Regions from separate parts of the Homo sapiens genome. Here region 2 is linked to region 1. Evidence: fine-mapped expression QTL. Tissue or cell type: whole blood. Region 1 holds a variant in brackets; the other region holds the start of a gene. All regions are shown on one strand. Distances are between the middles of the regions.

What was found. PIP is the estimated chance that this variant, and not a neighbour inherited with it, causes the effect.
Region 2: it holds the start of ANKRD39, and the variant in region 1 is fine-mapped to the expression of ANKRD39 in whole blood (TOPMed, PIP 0.96).

What each region holds. Positions count from the first base shown.
Region 1 is chr2:96,833,065-96,841,215 of GRCh38, reverse strand. CNNM3 (cyclin and CBS domain divalent metal cation transport mediator 3) reads right to left here. Exons shown (of 8, transcript NM_017623.5): 8 at 5,834-8,151. ANKRD23 (ankyrin repeat domain 23) reads left to right here. Exons shown (of 9, transcript NM_144994.8): 4 at 304-429; 5 at 702-800; 6 at 886-984; 7 at 1,121-1,219; 8 at 1,391-1,489; 9 at 1,572-3,304. The coding sequence ends at 1,667. It overlaps LOC124907859 (a long non-coding RNA gene), which reads left to right and starts at 6,827. Exons shown (of 2, transcript XR_007087143.1): 1 at 6,827-7,905. RefSeq lists silencers at 1,341-1,440, 1,581-1,640 and enhancers at 2,780-3,334, 3,335-3,891, 7,439-8,058, 7,721-8,151. The variant G/A (reference allele first, on the strand shown) is at 4,984.
Region 2 is chr2:96,853,079-96,861,249 of GRCh38, reverse strand. ANKRD39 (ankyrin repeat domain 39) reads left to right here and starts at 3,234. Exons shown (of 4, transcript NM_016466.6): 1 at 3,234-3,362; 2 at 6,809-6,912; 3 at 7,646-7,849. The coding sequence starts at 3,263. It overlaps SEMA4C (semaphorin 4C), which reads left to right. Exons shown (of 15, transcript NM_017789.5): 15 at 1-1,532. The coding sequence ends at 624. RefSeq lists silencers at 2,704-3,373, 3,404-3,573.

The DNA.
Region 1 (8,151 bases):
CATCTTAACTAATTACATCCTCAGTGACTCTGTTTCCAAATAAGGTCACATTCTGAGGTACCTGGGGTTAGTACTTCATACGAATCTTGGGGAGATACAAGTCAATCCATAACACACACGCTCACACACACACAGTCTATTCAATCTCCTGGCGTGGGATTAGAATAAGAAACTGCATTAGTACGAGCCAGCAGTGTTCCTTGGTGGGCTGCATGGGACCCGTGGGCCAGACTGGTGAAGCTGTGACATCTTGGGCACCTGCGGCCTTCGGGAGTGATTTGGTCTTGTCTTCAACTGAACCAGCCGCAGTCCCAGGCCCAGGTGGAGCCTGTGGGCCTGGAGATGTTCCTGAAGGCAGCTGCTGAGAACCAGGAGTACCTGATTGACAAGTACTTGACAGACGGAGGGGACCCCAATGCCCATGACAAGGTAGCACAGGTTGGGTGAGTCGGCTGGCAGCAGCTGCAGCTGCAGGAGCGCTGCCTTCAGTGTGTTCAAGTCCTGGCCTAGGAGGCTGCAGGGATTTTCACTCTTATGGGCATGAATCCAGTGGCACCTGCAGACGGAGGAGAGGGAGCGGCCCATCGCGTGGTGGGGGAAGTGGCAATTCCATTCAGGGACCTGGCCCTGGGAAGGGGACCGCGTGGGGTCTCTAGGGGTGGCTGCACTCCCTCTGCCTAATCTTCCATCTCTGCCCTCAGCTCCACCGCACCGCCTTGCACTGGGCCTGTCTGAAGGGTCACAGCCAGCTGGTGAACAAGCTGCTGGTGGCAGGTGCCACAGTGGACGCGCGAGACTTGGTGAGGATGGGGAAAGGCCCAGCCTCTGGTCGACGCCCAGCTTCACATCCCAGCAGCTGAGTGCTTGGGTGCTTTTGTTTTGCAGCTGGACAGGACACCTGTGTTCTGGGCCTGCCGCGGAGGACATCTGGTCATCCTCAAACAGCTGCTTAACCAGGGAGCCCGGGTCAATGCCCGGGACAAGGTGAGGGGCACGGTGCTTTGGGGGCCTGTCGGGAACACGGGAGCAGACGCTGTTCCTGGAGAAGAGAGCACGTAGTCCCATGGGTTAGGGAGGCCTCACCAATCCAGACCCAGCACTGACCCCCACTTGCTCTCAGATCGGGAGCACCCCCCTGCACGTGGCAGTGCGCACCCGGCACCCCGACTGCCTGGAGCACCTCATCGAGTGTGGCGCCCACCTGAACGCACAGGATAAGGTAAGGCAGGCGCTTGGTCTTTTCCGGCTCGGACAGCTCCAGAGGAGCAGGGACTGAGGAGCCCCAGCCAGGACCAGAGGTGCTGTCTGCTCGGTGACAGCAGCCCTGACCTTCCTGCATGAGGAGGGCAGCACGCGGAGGCAGAAGCTTGACTGCCTGCGTTCTCAGCAGGAAGGGGACACGGCTCTGCACGAGGCCGTGCGGCACGGCAGCTACAAAGCCATGAAGCTACTGCTGCTCTATGGGGCCGAGCTGGGGGTGCGGAACGCGGTGAGTGTGGGCGCAGCCCTGGCTCCTGACCCGAGGGCGGGTGGAGCGCCTGCAAGGGACTGACCCACACCGTTGCTCCCAGGCCTCCGTGACCCCGGTGCAGCTGGCTCGAGACTGGCAGCGCGGCATCCGGGAGGCCCTGCAGGCCCACGTGGCGCATCCCCGCACCCGGTGCTGACCGCAGCACCGCCCCCCGCCGCGCCTTTCGCACTGCCACCATTCCATCCTGTGCCCCGCCCCCGCGTCTGCACCTCTGTGGTTCCTGCCCTCAGCCCTGGTTCCTCCCTCTCTGGCCTGTGCCGCCTCAGCAGCCCTGGCAGAACTGAAGAGCGGCACCGGGCCCAGCAGGCAAAGAGAGAGGCCTCCCTGGCTTCGAGTGTCAGGGGAGCCGCGTTCCCTCCCAGGGCTGGAGCAGAGGACCACAAGGCAGCAGAAAGCGCGGGTCCAGATGAGGGCCAGGAAGGGGAGGAGAGTGAGGGCCAAGAACGAGCCTTAAGGGAGCAGTCCCAAGCTGGAGCCACCCAGGGCTGGGTCTGGGAGTCCTCAGTGTCCACTTGTCCCAGGTTAGGGGGCTTGCCTTGCTCTCTCCAGGGCCAGTCTGTGTGTGTGGGGACTCAGCCCGTGGCCGGCAGATGCCATCCAGGATGTACAAGGTGCAGCCAAGGCAGGCCATGCAGGGGCCGGGCCTGTCTGCAGCTGGTGGATGCCTGTGGGCATGGCTTTCTCTGGGGACCCCATTCCTGTCAGTAGCAACCCTGGCAGTGTCCGGAGCGGCTCTAGACAACTTTGGTCATAGGAACTCTGGAGGTGGGTTCTGGTCATCTGAGGTGGCTACTCAACAGGTTTGAGGCCCCACAGCAACAGAAGTCCAGGACCCACTAGGTTGCCTCAGAAGCCCTAAGACTGATGAGCTGGAGCGCGCATTTGAGAGAAGCCTCGCACCCACTGTGTACTGGCCCCGCTCAGGCCGGCCTGGCACACCGTTGCCTGCTGGCGGCTCTCATGGGGAAGCGCCTGGGCACTGGGGATTGCTTGTGGCCCACTCAACTCTTGGGGCAGTGGCCCGTAACCCTAGTTTGCCTGAGGCCCTTATGTCCCCTTATGTTCCTGGTACTGGAGCTTGAGCTCTTGCCTGGAACGCTGCAGCTGCACCCACCCTGCTTGATCCCACCTGGGAGGCCAGGACACTGAGGAGCTCTGAACCCAGCCCACAGGGAAGCAGAGGAAGGTGAGCCCCCGCCGCCCCCCAGCCCTTCCCATCCCTTCCCTGCTCCCTGGTGGTCTAAGGACCCAAGCTCCCTAGACTTCCTCTTCCACCGTCTGTACGTTTCAAATTACACTGGTGTAGGCCTGTACTGCTGGTGGGGCTGGGCCCCTAAACGCCAGAAAGTGAATCTTAAGAAGCTCTGCCCTAAACTGAGAACCACATGCTGAGGGAAGGGCTGAAAGGTGAAGGCTCAGCCTCCCTCACATGGGTCCTGGGTTACATTAGGTACCGGGCTGATTGATAGGCATTTGGCCATGGTTCCTTTTCGTCTACCTTTGGGGGCCTTCTCAGGCCCAGAACAAGGCTGTTGTTACTATGTGGAAAAGCTGACCAGTGCTGCACACTAGGGGCACACACCTTTCCATGAGCAGCTCCTGCCCTGTGGCGACAGCCAGCGTGCACCCAGACGCTGGTGCCATGGCGAAGCAGGCGTTCAAGACCATGGAGAAGACAACTCCTCATCTAGAAAATGAGGACACCTCAGTGACAAACACACCTTTTTATACCAATCAGTATCCTCTGTTCATTAAAACTGGCTATCCATTACAGCCTAGCCGTCTTTCCTGGGCCGAGAGGAGCCCATGCTTCAGTCACCAGGGACTGTCTGATAGGGCCCACGCCTGTTAGCCATGCCGGCCGACAGCAAGATAGGCCGAGTGCAGAGTGGGCGGGATGCGGGGTCCTGGCACTAGGCTTTTGTGCTTAAGGCACCTCTGCTCACTGACGACAAGGTCAAAGAGCAGTGGTTCTCCACCTCAGCTGCTTATCAGAATCACCAGGAAGGTTTAAAAAGTCCTGATGTCCAGACCCTAAGTCAGAAGCCCTGAGGGGAGGATCCAGGTATTCTCATGCAGAGGCCATGCTTGTCTATGTGGGAAATCCTAGGAATCTACAGAAAGCAGACAACTAGGGAGTCCAGCAAAATCTCGGGTGCAAGATAAACACACAAAAACCTGTTTCTACCTCCTAGAAATGAACATGTAGACACAAAAGTTAAAAATATGTACTGTTTACAATTGCTGAAAAAGGGAAATACTTCGGTTTAAATCTAACAAAATATGCAAGGACTTGTATGCTGAAAATTATAAAACGTGATGAAATCAAAGATTTAAATAGACATGCCATGTTCATGGATTGCTAGACAGAATACAGTAAAGATATCAATTCTCCTCAAATTAACATACAGGTTAAATGCAGTTCCTATCAAAATCCTAGAAGATGTTTTGTAGATGTAGACAAGGTTATTCTAAAATTCATATACAAATTTATAGCAAAAATATTTTGAAAAAGAATAGAGTGAGAGGAGGAATCAGTCCAGCTGATTTCAAGATCTACTATATAGCTATGTGAACCAAGAGTGCAATGCTGGCAGAGGCACAGACACACAGATCGACAGAGCCGAGATCATCACGGGAACAGGACCACACAAATATGCCCAGCTGACTTTAAGGTGCAAAAGTAATTCAATGGAGGAAGGACAGCCTTTCAACAAACGGTGCTGGAGCAGCTGGACCAGCTATAGGATTAAAAAAAAAGAACTTTAGCCTAAGTCTTACACATTATACAAAAATTAACATGGCTCACATGCATACTTAAATTTAAAACTATAAAACTTCTTTTAGGAAAAAACAGATAACCTTTGGGATCTAAGACTAGGTAGAGTTGTTCTTAAATGCAACACTAAAAGCAACAGTCCATAAAGGAAATATCAGTAAAGTGGACTTTATCAAAACTGAAAACTTTTGCTCTGTATAAAACCCTGTTAAGAGGGTGAAAAGATGGCCGGGCACGGTGGCTCACACCTGTAATTGTAGTACTTTGGGAGGTTGAGGCAGGCAGATCACTTGAGCTCATGAGTTTGAGACCAGGTGTGGGCAACATGGTGAAACCCCATCTCTATAAAAAATTAGCTGGGCATAGGCTGGGCATGGTGGCTCATGCCTATAATTCCAGCACTTTGGTAGGCTGAGGCGGGCAGATCATCTGAGGTCAGGAGTTTGAGACCAGCCTGACCAACATGGAGAAACCCCATCTCTACTGAAAATACAAAATTAGCCAGGCGTGGTGGCACATGCCTGTAATCCCAGCTACTCGGGAGGCTGAGGCAGTAGAATCACTTGAACTGGGAGGCGGAGGTTGCAGTGAGCCGAGACCACGCCATTGAACTCCAGCCTGGGCAACAAGAGTGAAACTACATCTCAAAAAAAAAAAAAAAAAAAATTAGCTG[G/A]GTGTGGTGATAGTCCCATCTACATGGGGAGCTGAAGAGGGAGAACTGCTTGAGTCCAGAAGTCAAGTATACAGTGAGCCAAGATTGTGCCACTGCACTCCACCATGGGTGACAAAGTGAGACTCTGTCTCAGGAAAAAAAAAAGGGGGGGAGGGGGAGGGGTGAAAAAGATAAGCTACAGACCAATGGAAACCAAAAATCCCATAAAGGAATCTCAAAGAACTCTCAAAACTCAACAGAAGAAACAATCCAATCAGAAAATGGGTGAAAGACAGGAATATTCCACTGAAGCGAAACACAGGTGTCCACCACTGGGAAATGCAAATGAAAAACCACCGTGAGGCATCACGACACACCTGTCAGAACGGCTGAAGTAAAAACATGTGGACACCACTAAGTGCTGTGGAGGATTCAGGGAAACTGATCATCCTAGGTTGCCGGTGAGGACATGAGTTTGACAGTTTGTGGCCAGGTGCGGTGGCTCACGCCTGTAATCCCAGAACTTTGGGAGGCTGAGGCGGGCAGATCACGAAGTCAGGAGATCGAGACCATCCTGGCTAACATGGTGAAACCCCGTCTCTACTAAAAATACAAAAAACTAGCCGGGCGTGGTGGCGGGCGCCTGTAGTCCCAGCTATGGGGAGGCTGAGGCAGGAGAATGGCATGAACCCGGGAGGCAGAGCTTGCAGTGAGCCGAGACTGCGCCACTGCACTCCAGCCTGGGCAAAAGAGTGAGACTCCGTCTCAAAAAAAAAAAAAAAAAGTTTGATTGTTTAAAAAACGAAACATGCAACAACCCTATGACCAAGCATTTACACTCCTCGAAAACTAATCCTGACACAGAAACCTGTACATGAATAGTCGTAGCAGCTTTATTTGGAATAGCCCCAAACTGGAAACATCCCAGGTGTCCTTCAGGGGGCCAATGCATACACCACGGAATACCACTCAGCAATAAAAAGGAGCAAACTGTTGACACATGCAATGCCTGGATGATCTCCCGAGAATGACGCCGAGTGAAAAAAGACAATCCCGAATGCTTACACACTATGCTCCCATTTATACAACATTCTTGAAATGACAAAATAAGAAGAGATGAACGATTAGTGGTTACCAGGAGTTAGGGAAGGTGGGGAGGGAGATCCTTGTGGGGATGGGACTTCTTTATCCTGATTGCAGTGGTAGTTACACAGATGTACATGTGACAAATGATTTGGACTGTCCACCCACATCGCACCAGTGTCAGAGTCTTTGTTGGAATACTGCATTACAACCATATAAGATGTAACCATGGAGGGAAACTAGATGAAGGGTGCGTGGGGCCCTTACCTTTACAACTTCCTATCATCTGAAATTATTTCAAAATATAAAGTTAGGAAAAAAGAAAGCAACAGCTCTAAGTGCAGTATGGCATCCTGGATTGGCTGCTGCAGCAGAAAAGGGACATTGGGAAAAATGGTAAAATCCAAATAAACTCTAGCTATTAGTATGATTGCACCTTTAGTTTTGATAAATGTACCAAGGTTATATGTAAGCTGTTAACATTAGGGGAACCTGGGTGAAAGGTGTATGAAACTTCTGTGAATCTGGGCACGGTGGCTCACGCCTATAATCTCAACACTTTGGGAGGCCGAGGCAGGAGGATCGCTTGAGCCTAGGAGTTCGAGACTACCCCAGGCAACATAATGAGACCCTATCTCTACAAAAAAAAATTAAAAGTATTAGCTGGGTGTGGTGGTGCCTACCTGTAGTCCCTACTACTCAGGAGGCTGAGGTGGCAGGATGGCCTGAACCAGGGAGGTCGAGGCTGCAGCAAGCCGTGATCACACCACTGCACTCCAGTCTGGGCGACAGAGCAAGATCTTGTCTCAATAATAATAATAATAATAATAATAATAATAAATAAATAAAAAATTGAAAACTCTGATGCCGACTCTGATTAAATCACAAGCTCTGGTGGCAGGTCCACGTATTTTTAATTTGCCAGGTGATTCTGGTGTGCAGCCAAGGTTAAGAATCCCTGATCTTAGCTCACACCTATAATCCCAGCACTTTGGGAGGCCAAGGCAGGCAGATCACCTGAGGTCAGGAGTTCAAGATCAGCCTGGCCAACATGGTGAAACCCCATCTCTACTAAAAATACAAAAATTAGCCGGGTGTGGTGGTGGGCACCTGTAATCCCAGCTACTCAGGGGGCTGAGACAGGAGAATGGCTTGAACCTGGGAGGTGGAGGTTGCAGTGAGCCAAGATCTCACCACTGCACTCCAGCCTGGGTGACAGAGTGAGACTCCATCTCAAATAAACAAACAAAAAACCACTGTTCTGGAGAGAGGATTTTAAAGCATCTGTTTCCAACCCGGGCTTGCTCTCAGAGTTTATTCCTTGAGGACAATTTCTAAGCAAGGATATCACTGTTGTTTTGACCTTCAGTCCCATTTATAAGGGTCCAAATTCCTTTGAGAAAAGTTCCAGAAATCCTCCTCCCTCCCTACCCAATCTATGATCCTATGTCCTTGTGATGCCCGTTTCCACACAGCTGAAGAACTACGGAAGGAAAATGTAGTAAACTAGAAGAAAAAGACAAATGCCTTCCTGTTCCCACTTCTCTAAAACCCCATAGCTAGGAACAGAAAAAAAGGAAAAGACTTGAAATGTTCTAGAGATATAACAAAAACTTTTTTTTTTTTAAAGAGGATCCACCTGGTTCATGAACCCTCCCTCACTGCTCTCTGCACATCACGGCCACACAGCACCTGCAGGGAGGCTGTGGGGAGGTGTGGAGCAGGTGCAACAGGCAGCTACTCTCCTGGGGGCCACACGGCGGAGAGAGGATTCGATGCAGCATGACGATCCCTTCCTCCCAGGCATGACCTCTTCTCAGAACACGGGAACTGACAACACTGCGAGTGGCAACTCAGCAGGTGGGCAGAGAAGCAGAAAGGGGCCCTCAGCACCACTAGGCCAGCTCTCAGAATCAGAAGAGCAGCCTCCAGGGAGGGAGCAGGGCTACAGGGACAGCCTACGGGCAGTGGAGCTTCTGGTTTGGCACATGGGAAAGGCTGGGGCGCATGCGCTGAAACATGACACCATCAGGGAAGCCAGAAAGGACAACATGGACAAGGCCATCGATCTGAACCCCCAGCCAAAATGGGTGCTCTCGGCTTGCT
Region 2 (8,171 bases), 20 kb before region 1:
TGCTTTTCAGAGGAGCAGGGGGCGCGGCTGGCTGCTGAAGGCTACCTTGTGGCTGTCGTGGCAGGCCCGTCGGTGACCTTGGAGGCCCGGGCCCCCCTGGAAAACCTGGGGCTGGTGTGGCTGGCGGTGGTGGCCCTGGGGGCTGTGTGCCTGGTGCTGCTGCTGCTGGTGCTGTCATTGCGCCGGCGGCTGCGGGAAGAGCTGGAGAAAGGGGCCAAGGCTACTGAGAGGACCTTGGTGTACCCCCTGGAGCTGCCCAAGGAGCCCACCAGTCCCCCCTTCCGGCCCTGTCCTGAACCAGATGAGAAACTTTGGGATCCTGTCGGTTACTACTATTCAGATGGCTCCCTTAAGATAGTACCTGGGCATGCCCGGTGCCAGCCCGGTGGGGGGCCCCCTTCGCCACCTCCAGGCATCCCAGGCCAGCCTCTGCCTTCTCCAACTCGGCTTCACCTGGGGGGTGGGCGGAACTCAAATGCCAATGGTTACGTGCGCTTACAACTAGGAGGGGAGGACCGGGGAGGGCTCGGGCACCCCCTGCCTGAGCTCGCGGATGAACTGAGACGCAAACTGCAGCAACGCCAGCCACTGCCCGACTCCAACCCCGAGGAGTCATCAGTATGAGGGGAACCCCCACCGCGTCGGCGGGAAGCGTGGGAGGTGTAGCTCCTACTTTTGCACAGGCACCAGCTACCTCAGGGACATGGCACGGGCACCTGCTCTGTCTGGGACAGATACTGCCCAGCACCCACCCGGCCATGAGGACCTGCTCTGCTCAGCACGGGCACTGCCACTTGGTGTGGCTCACCAGGGCACCAGCCTCGCAGAAGGCATCTTCCTCCTCTCTGTGAATCACAGACACGCGGGACCCCAGCCGCCAAAACTTTTCAAGGCAGAAGTTTCAAGATGTGTGTTTGTCTGTATTTGCACATGTGTTTGTGTGTGTGTGTATGTGTGTGTGCACGCGCGTGCGCGCTTGTGGCATAGCCTTCCTGTTTCTGTCAAGTCTTCCCTTGGCCTGGGTCCTCCTGGTGAGTCATTGGAGCTATGAAGGGGAAGGGGTCGTATCACTTTGTCTCTCCTACCCCCACTGCCCCGAGTGTCGGGCAGCGATGTACATATGGAGGTGGGGTGGACAGGGTGCTGTGCCCCTTCAGAGGGAGTGCAGGGCTTGGGGTGGGCCTAGTCCTGCTCCTAGGGCTGTGAATGTTTTCAGGGTGGGGGGAGGGAGATGGAGCCTCCTGTGTGTTTGGGGGGAAGGGTGGGTGGGGCCTCCCACTTGGCCCCGGGGTTCAGTGGTATTTTATACTTGCCTTCTTCCTGTACAGGGCTGGGAAAGGCTGTGTGAGGGGAGAGAAGGGAGAGGGTGGGCCTGCTGTGGACAATGGCATACTCTCTTCCAGCCCTAGGAGGAGGGCTCCTAACAGTGTAACTTATTGTGTCCCCGCGTATTTATTTGTTGTAAATATTTGAGTATTTTTATATTGACAAATAAAATGGAGAAAATGAAACGATTGCTCTGATGGGGCTAAGATGTTTGGGCTAAAGCCTTTCTGGGTACCAAGAGGGAAGGCTCTCTGGGTGGAGGGAGGCTGGACTGGGCCTCCCCCACAATCCCAGGGCAGCCACCACTTTTGTGGTCCCTGCCTGCCTGTGGGAGGGGACAGCCCAGCTCTAGTGTTTTCCCACAGTGGTGGCTGCGGGGCTGGGAACGAGACCATGGCCATAGCCCCTTGGGAGCCAGCCTTGGCTTCTGGCCAGAAGGAGAAGTCAGGGCACTGGGAGTCCAGGGGAGAAGCGGAGTGGTGGGGGGGGTGCCTTCCCAGAACTCAAGACGGGTAGTGGGAATGAGGGGCCAAAGGAGTGGAAGGTTGTGGAGATGAGATCATTGCTTGTGTGAGGATGGGGTTCTCAACCTGCTTAGGGGAGGAGAAACGACTTCCAGCCTTCTACCCACCAGGAATGCTAGGGTCTTCCGTGCCCCAACTAGCGGGGGAAGGAACTTACATCCAGTGTGCACCAGACCACTGTCCTGGAGAGGGACTGGCACAGAACCCAACCTGCATTCTGTCGTTCATGCACTCTTTCTAAGCCGATCAGGCGGTCTCCCCTGTACACTTGATCGTGGCTTGAGCAGGCAGCTGCCTGGGTTTTAACTGGGAATTGAGAAGGCTGGGGTCCGCTGAGGAGCACGCTGCGAAGGTGCGCGGTCCGCAGACGGCCTCCCGGTGGGTTTTGATCATGAAGACCGATTCCGTAAACTCAGCGCCCACTGTGGGGCCAGGGGGTTCTGCACAAACCAAGGCCCTGCCCCTGCCCTGAGGTGGAGCTACAGGCAGGACAAGTTGTGGCCACCTGCCCCTTGCTGGACTTGTAAGGAAGAGCAGGGTACGGGGAGGGGCGTCTCGAGGCCTTTCCAGCCGTCACTTTGCCGCTGCCCCGGGGGCGGTCGGCCTTGGTCCGGGGTGGTGCCAGGAAGAGGGGCTAAAAACCGTGGAGCGCGCCCCGGCCCGATGGCTCACGCCTGTAATCCCAGCACTTTGGGAGGCCAAGGTGAGCGGATCACGAGGTCAAGAGATCGAGACCATCCTGGCGAAACCCCGTCTCTACTAAAAAATACAAAAAATTAGCCGGGCGTGGTGGCGGGCGCCTGTAGTCCCAGCTACTCAGGAGTCTGACGCAGGAGAATCGCTTGAACCCGGGAGGCGGAGGTTGCAGTGAGCCGAGATCGCGCCACTGCACACAAGTCTGGGTGACAGCGAGACTCCGTCTCAAAAAAAAAAAAAAAAAAAAAAAAGACCGCGGAGCGCGTGGCGCCTCCCTGCCCTAGGGACTAGGGGCGGTAAAGAGAGGAGGCTGCGAGGTCGCTGGACGGCTGGGTCATGGCGAAGGTAACGGGAAAGCTCCCGACCGGACCCAGCTGCCTCATCCCCACACCCTGCAAGGCCAGGCGGCCCGGCGGCCCTCCAGCGGCGCGCGGCTCCCGGAACCCAGCGCCTCAGTCCTCGCTTGGCCTTGGACGCCCTCGCGCGGAGGCCTCGGGGCACGGCCGGGCGCAACAAGCCCCGCCCTACCGTTGCAATTGGTTCTCGAGCTAAGGCCTAGGCGTTTGATTGGTCAGCTTTGGCGAGAAGGCGGGACTAGGGCGACAGCCGCGGACGCCGAGCGGCCAGATCAGGGACGCGGGGCGGGCCCTGCGTCCGCCCCTCCCGCCGAGGCTGAGCCTGAGACCCGGGGCGGATCGACTGACGCCGGGGCCGGGATGGCGACGCCTCGGCCCTGCGCGGACGGGCCCTGCTGCTCGCATCCCAGCGCGGTGCTCGGCGTACAGCAGACGCTGGAGGAGATGGACTTCGAGAGGGGTGAGGCTGCCGCGCGGCCCTCGTGGTTCTCACCAGGCCCCGGCCCAAGGAGGAGGCGTGGGGCCAAGGAGAGGCGGATGAACGGGGCCCCGAGAGCTTGGGGCTTGGGGCTTGGGGCCTGGTGCGGGAAGGCGGGCGGGACCCACGGTTCCCGTGTACTGAGAGCCTCCCAGGGCCCCGCACGAGCTCGGCCAGGAGACACCTGTCCCGCGGGCGGCGGGGAAGCGGAAGCACTGGTTTCCGTAACCCTCCCGAGTAGCGGGGGACGACCTCCCCTGGGAGACACAAGCCTGCTCAGGTGTTTGAGAGAGGGCCCGGGGAGCAGAATCTGCACCAGGGGCATTGCACCCAACCTGAGGGGCATGGAGCTGCAGGCCTGGGGGCTGCGCGGTGAAGGAGAGCAGTGGCCTTTGTTTAGCCCCGGGTGCCAGGCAGCCTGCATGCTTTAAAGATGGCAAGAGCTTCGCACGGGCAGCCTTCGAGGCAGGGCACAGTATCTCATCTGTGGGACCCAGAGAGGTAACACGTTTGGCCCAGATTATACAGAGATTATGGTGCCAATAGGAACAGAGGAAGGCGGGAAACCAGGGTGCTTCTTGTGAGCGTTGGGAACCACTGTGCTGTGTCATCTGCCCTTGCGGATGCAGCCCTCGATTGCCACTGCTGTGTAAGCATTCTCATGGAACTCTTCCTTTACCGTGGTTCTGGCACCTGCCTACTTCCCTCCGCCCCTCCTACCGCTGTCCTCTGCACTGCTGAAGTGGTTGCCTCAGAGGGTCTTTCTGCTTCCACGCTTGCCTTCCTACAGGGTTTTCTACTCTCACATAGCAGCCAGAGCGGCTTTTTGAAAATTAGAAATCACATCATTCCCTGTTATGGCCTACAAAGCTCTGTAGACCCACCCCTGCCGGTTCTACTTCTCCTCCTCATTTTATTTCTCATGCTTTTCTTCCCCCAATCACTACGCCGCAGCCACACTGGTCTTGTTTTGGTGTCTCAAATATGCAAGACCTTTTCCTGAGTTAAGGCCGTTGGACTTGCTGTCCCATCTCCTTAGAATGAACTTCCTACAACCGTTAAGCTAGCTGATGCTTTTCTTCAGATCCCAGCTCCAATGTCATCTCCTCAGAGACCCTCCCTAAACACCCCAGTTCTCAACTGGGGGCAGTTCTGCCCTTTAAGGGACTTTGAATATCTGGAGACATTTTGGGTTGTCACAATCAGGAGGGTGCTACAGGCGTGTAGTAGGTAGAGATGAGAGATGCTGTATACATGGTACAATGCACAGGACAGCTCGCTACAATAATCATCCGGCCCGTAAGTGTCAATTGTGCTGTTAAGAAGTAAACATTGCCTTATCCAAAGTTAGGCCAGTTACTCTGATGTATCCATCATCTTGCTTTTTTTTTTTTTTTTTTTGAGATGGAGTCTCCCTCTTTTGTCCAGGCTGGCGTGCAGTAGCGCAATCTCGGCTCACTGCAGCCTCCGCCTCCTGGGTTCAAGCGATTCTCCTATTCTCCTGAGTAGCTGAGATTACAGGCGTGTGCCACGACGCCCGGCTAGTTTTTGTATTTTTAGTAGAGACCGGGGTTTCACCATATTGGTCAGGCTGATCTCGGAACTCCTGACCTCATGATCTGCCCGCTTTGACCTCCCAAAGTGCTAGGATTACAGGCGTGAGCCACCGCACCCGGCATCTTGCTTTCATAAAAAACAATTTTTACCGCAAACAATTTCCTCATTTTTTTGTGCAAACAAATACATTCTTTAAAACATTAATGGGAAGAGTGTATTTGATAAGCCAGTTTTAGCTACTGTTGTCACAAATAAAAGAAACTGTGAGATTTGTTAATCCGCTTCACTACAGTAACTCTTTGTTGTTGTTGTTGTTGTTTTGTTGTTGTTGTTGTTGTTGAGTCGGAGTCTGGCTCTGTCCCCAGGCTTTAGTGGCGCAATCTCGGCTCACTGCAAGCTCCACCTCCCAGGTTCACGCCATTCTCCTGCCTCAGCCTCCCAAGTAGCTGGGACTACAGGCGCCCGCCACCATGCCCGGCTAATTTTGTTTTGTATTTTTAGTAGAGATGAGGTTTCACCATGTTAGCCAGGATGGTCTTGATCTCCTGACCTCGTGATCCGCACAGTAATATATCTTTTTTTTTTTTTTTGAGACGGAGTCTCGCTCTGTCGCCCAGGCTGGAGTGCAGTGGTGCGATCTTGGCTCACGGCAACCTCTGCCTCCTGGGTTCACGCGATTCTTCTGCCTCAGCCCCCTGAGTAGCTGGGACTACAGGCGCGTGCCACCAAGCCCAGCTAATTTTTGTATTTTTAGTAGAGACGGGGTTTTACTCTGTTAGCCAGGATGGTCTCGATCTCCTGACCTCGTGATCCACCCGCCTCGGCCTCCCAAAGTGCTGGGATTACAGGCGTGAGCCACTGCGCCTGGCCAATATTTTTCTATTTATCATTTTGTACTACATTTTGGGTGAATTCCAAATCACTAATTCTCTTTGACTAGGTCTGCAGTACTCTTTGACCCATCTATTGTTGTTGTTTTGTTTCAATGAGTCTGTTTTTTAATTTATCAACTTTCCTGTTTCAGATCTGGCTGTTTTGTTTTTCCTAATGTTCTGTTGATTTGTGGATTCTATCCCTTTGTCTCTGTGAACACCTTCAATGTTGTTGTTTTAAGGTCTTTTTTGGATTGTGCAATAATGGCTCACTTTGGAGGCATGCGTGTTCCCACTTGTATTTGCTAGTTGTTGTCTGTCGCCATGCCACCCTGAACTCCCCGAACTCCCCTCATCTCACCTATATTTGCTGATTGTCTCTTAGGGCAGCAGATTGCTTCTTGTTTTGCAACTTTCAGTCTTTGTGCTCACCAGGGAGATCCTCTTCTGTGGGAGATTGTCACACTGCCTTGGCAGCCTTCTGGAGGCATCATTATATTTTTTAAAAGTTGTTTCTGGCTGGGCACGGTGGCTCACGCCTGTAATCCCAGCACTTTGGGAGGCCAAGGCAAATGGATCACTTGAGGTCAGGAGTTCAAGGCCAGCCTGACCAACATGGTGAAACCCTGTCTCTACTAAAAATAGAAAAATTTGCTGGGCATGGTGGTGGGCGCCTGTAATCCCAGCCCGACCTGAATTTCACTCTAGATCCAAACATTTTAAACATTACTTCATCCAGCACTTCTGTGTTTGAAGTGGGATGGAGATGTCTGTGTCCGCCCAGTCCTACTGTCCTGATGAGATGTGCCCATCTGTCTTGTTCACAGCTAAGTCACCAGCATTCAGAACAAACCTTGACACAGAGGAGGTGCTCGGTTGATATTTGTTGAAGGAATGAATATTCTTCACTTTATAGACAAGAAAACTGAGGTCAAGAGGCAAAGCAAGCACTGAAACTCCCATTCAGCATCATTCAGTCCTTTGGTTGCCTTTCTGCAGGAATCTGGTCGGCAGCCCTGAATGGAGACCTGGGCCGAGTGAAGCATTTAATCCAGAAGGCCGAGGACCCAAGTCAGCCCGACTCGGCCGGCTACACTGCGCTGGTGAGCTAGGGAGGAGCACAGGGTCAGGAGACAGAAGCGTTAACTCAGGAGACACCTGCTCTCTGAGGAGGGGGACTGATGGTTACCTTTTACCTCCTCCCTCCCTTTCTTCTCTTCCAGCAAAATTTCTCTTTTTAAGCATCATATGAACCTGGATTTTTTAAATTAGTGTGAGACCTTTACATCAATAATTTAGGTTTTGTTTTGTTTTGAGATGAAGTCTTGCTCTGTTACCCAGGCTGGAGTGCAGTGATGCGATCTCAGCTCACTGCAACCTCCGCCTCCCAGGTTCAAGCGATTCTCCTGCCTCAGCCTCCTGAGTAGCTGAGACTACAGGCATGTGCCACCACACCCAGCTAATTTTTGTATTTTTAGTAGAGATGGGTTTTCACCATGTTGACCAGGCTGGTCTCGAACTCCTGACTTCAGGTGATCCGCCTGCCTCGGCCTCCCAAAGTGCTGGGATTACAGGCATGAGCCACTGCGCCCAGCCAATGATTTAGTTTTATTTTCGTAACAATTCTTTGAGATAGGAATGATCATTTTCCCCATTTTTCAATTGAACAAACTCAGGTTAGTCACGCAGAAGCTTGCCCAGGTCACACGACTGCTGGGGTTGGCACCTGAGATGATTCCAGGCCCCTCGCTGCAGGGAGGCCATGCTCTCACCTCTATACCACCCTTGTCACCTGCCTGGCTTCTCCCATCTGACCTCGGTCTCTGTTCCCTGCAGCACTATGCCAGCCGCAATGGGCACTACGCTGTGTGCCAGTTCCTGCTGGAAAGCGGAGCTAAGTGTGATGCCCAGACCCACGGGGGTGCCACTGCTCTGCACCGAGCCAGCTACTGCGGGCACACTGAAATCGCGCGGCTCCTGCTATCACATGGGTCCAACCCCAGGGTGGTGGATGACGACGGCATGACCAGTCTGCATAAGGTGGGCCCGTTCCCCCTTCCAAAAATGTCGTTTCCTTATTTTTAAAGTTATAACATGTTCATGTAGAAAACATGGGGAAAACAGGAAATCAGAGAGAAGACAGTTAAAATCATTTGTAATTCCCTTGCTCACCTGTCATCACTTTAGGACTAATGGGTAATTCTCCAGCCTTTTTTCTGAGCGTGTAAATTAAAATGTACAGTGGCACTTTAGTTTTCTTTCCCTTAGAGACATGTCATGAAGCCTTTTCCATATAGTTTTCTGAAACTTATACATACTCTTGCCTGTTCCTGTAGTCCACTTGCTATATGTTAGCCGGAGT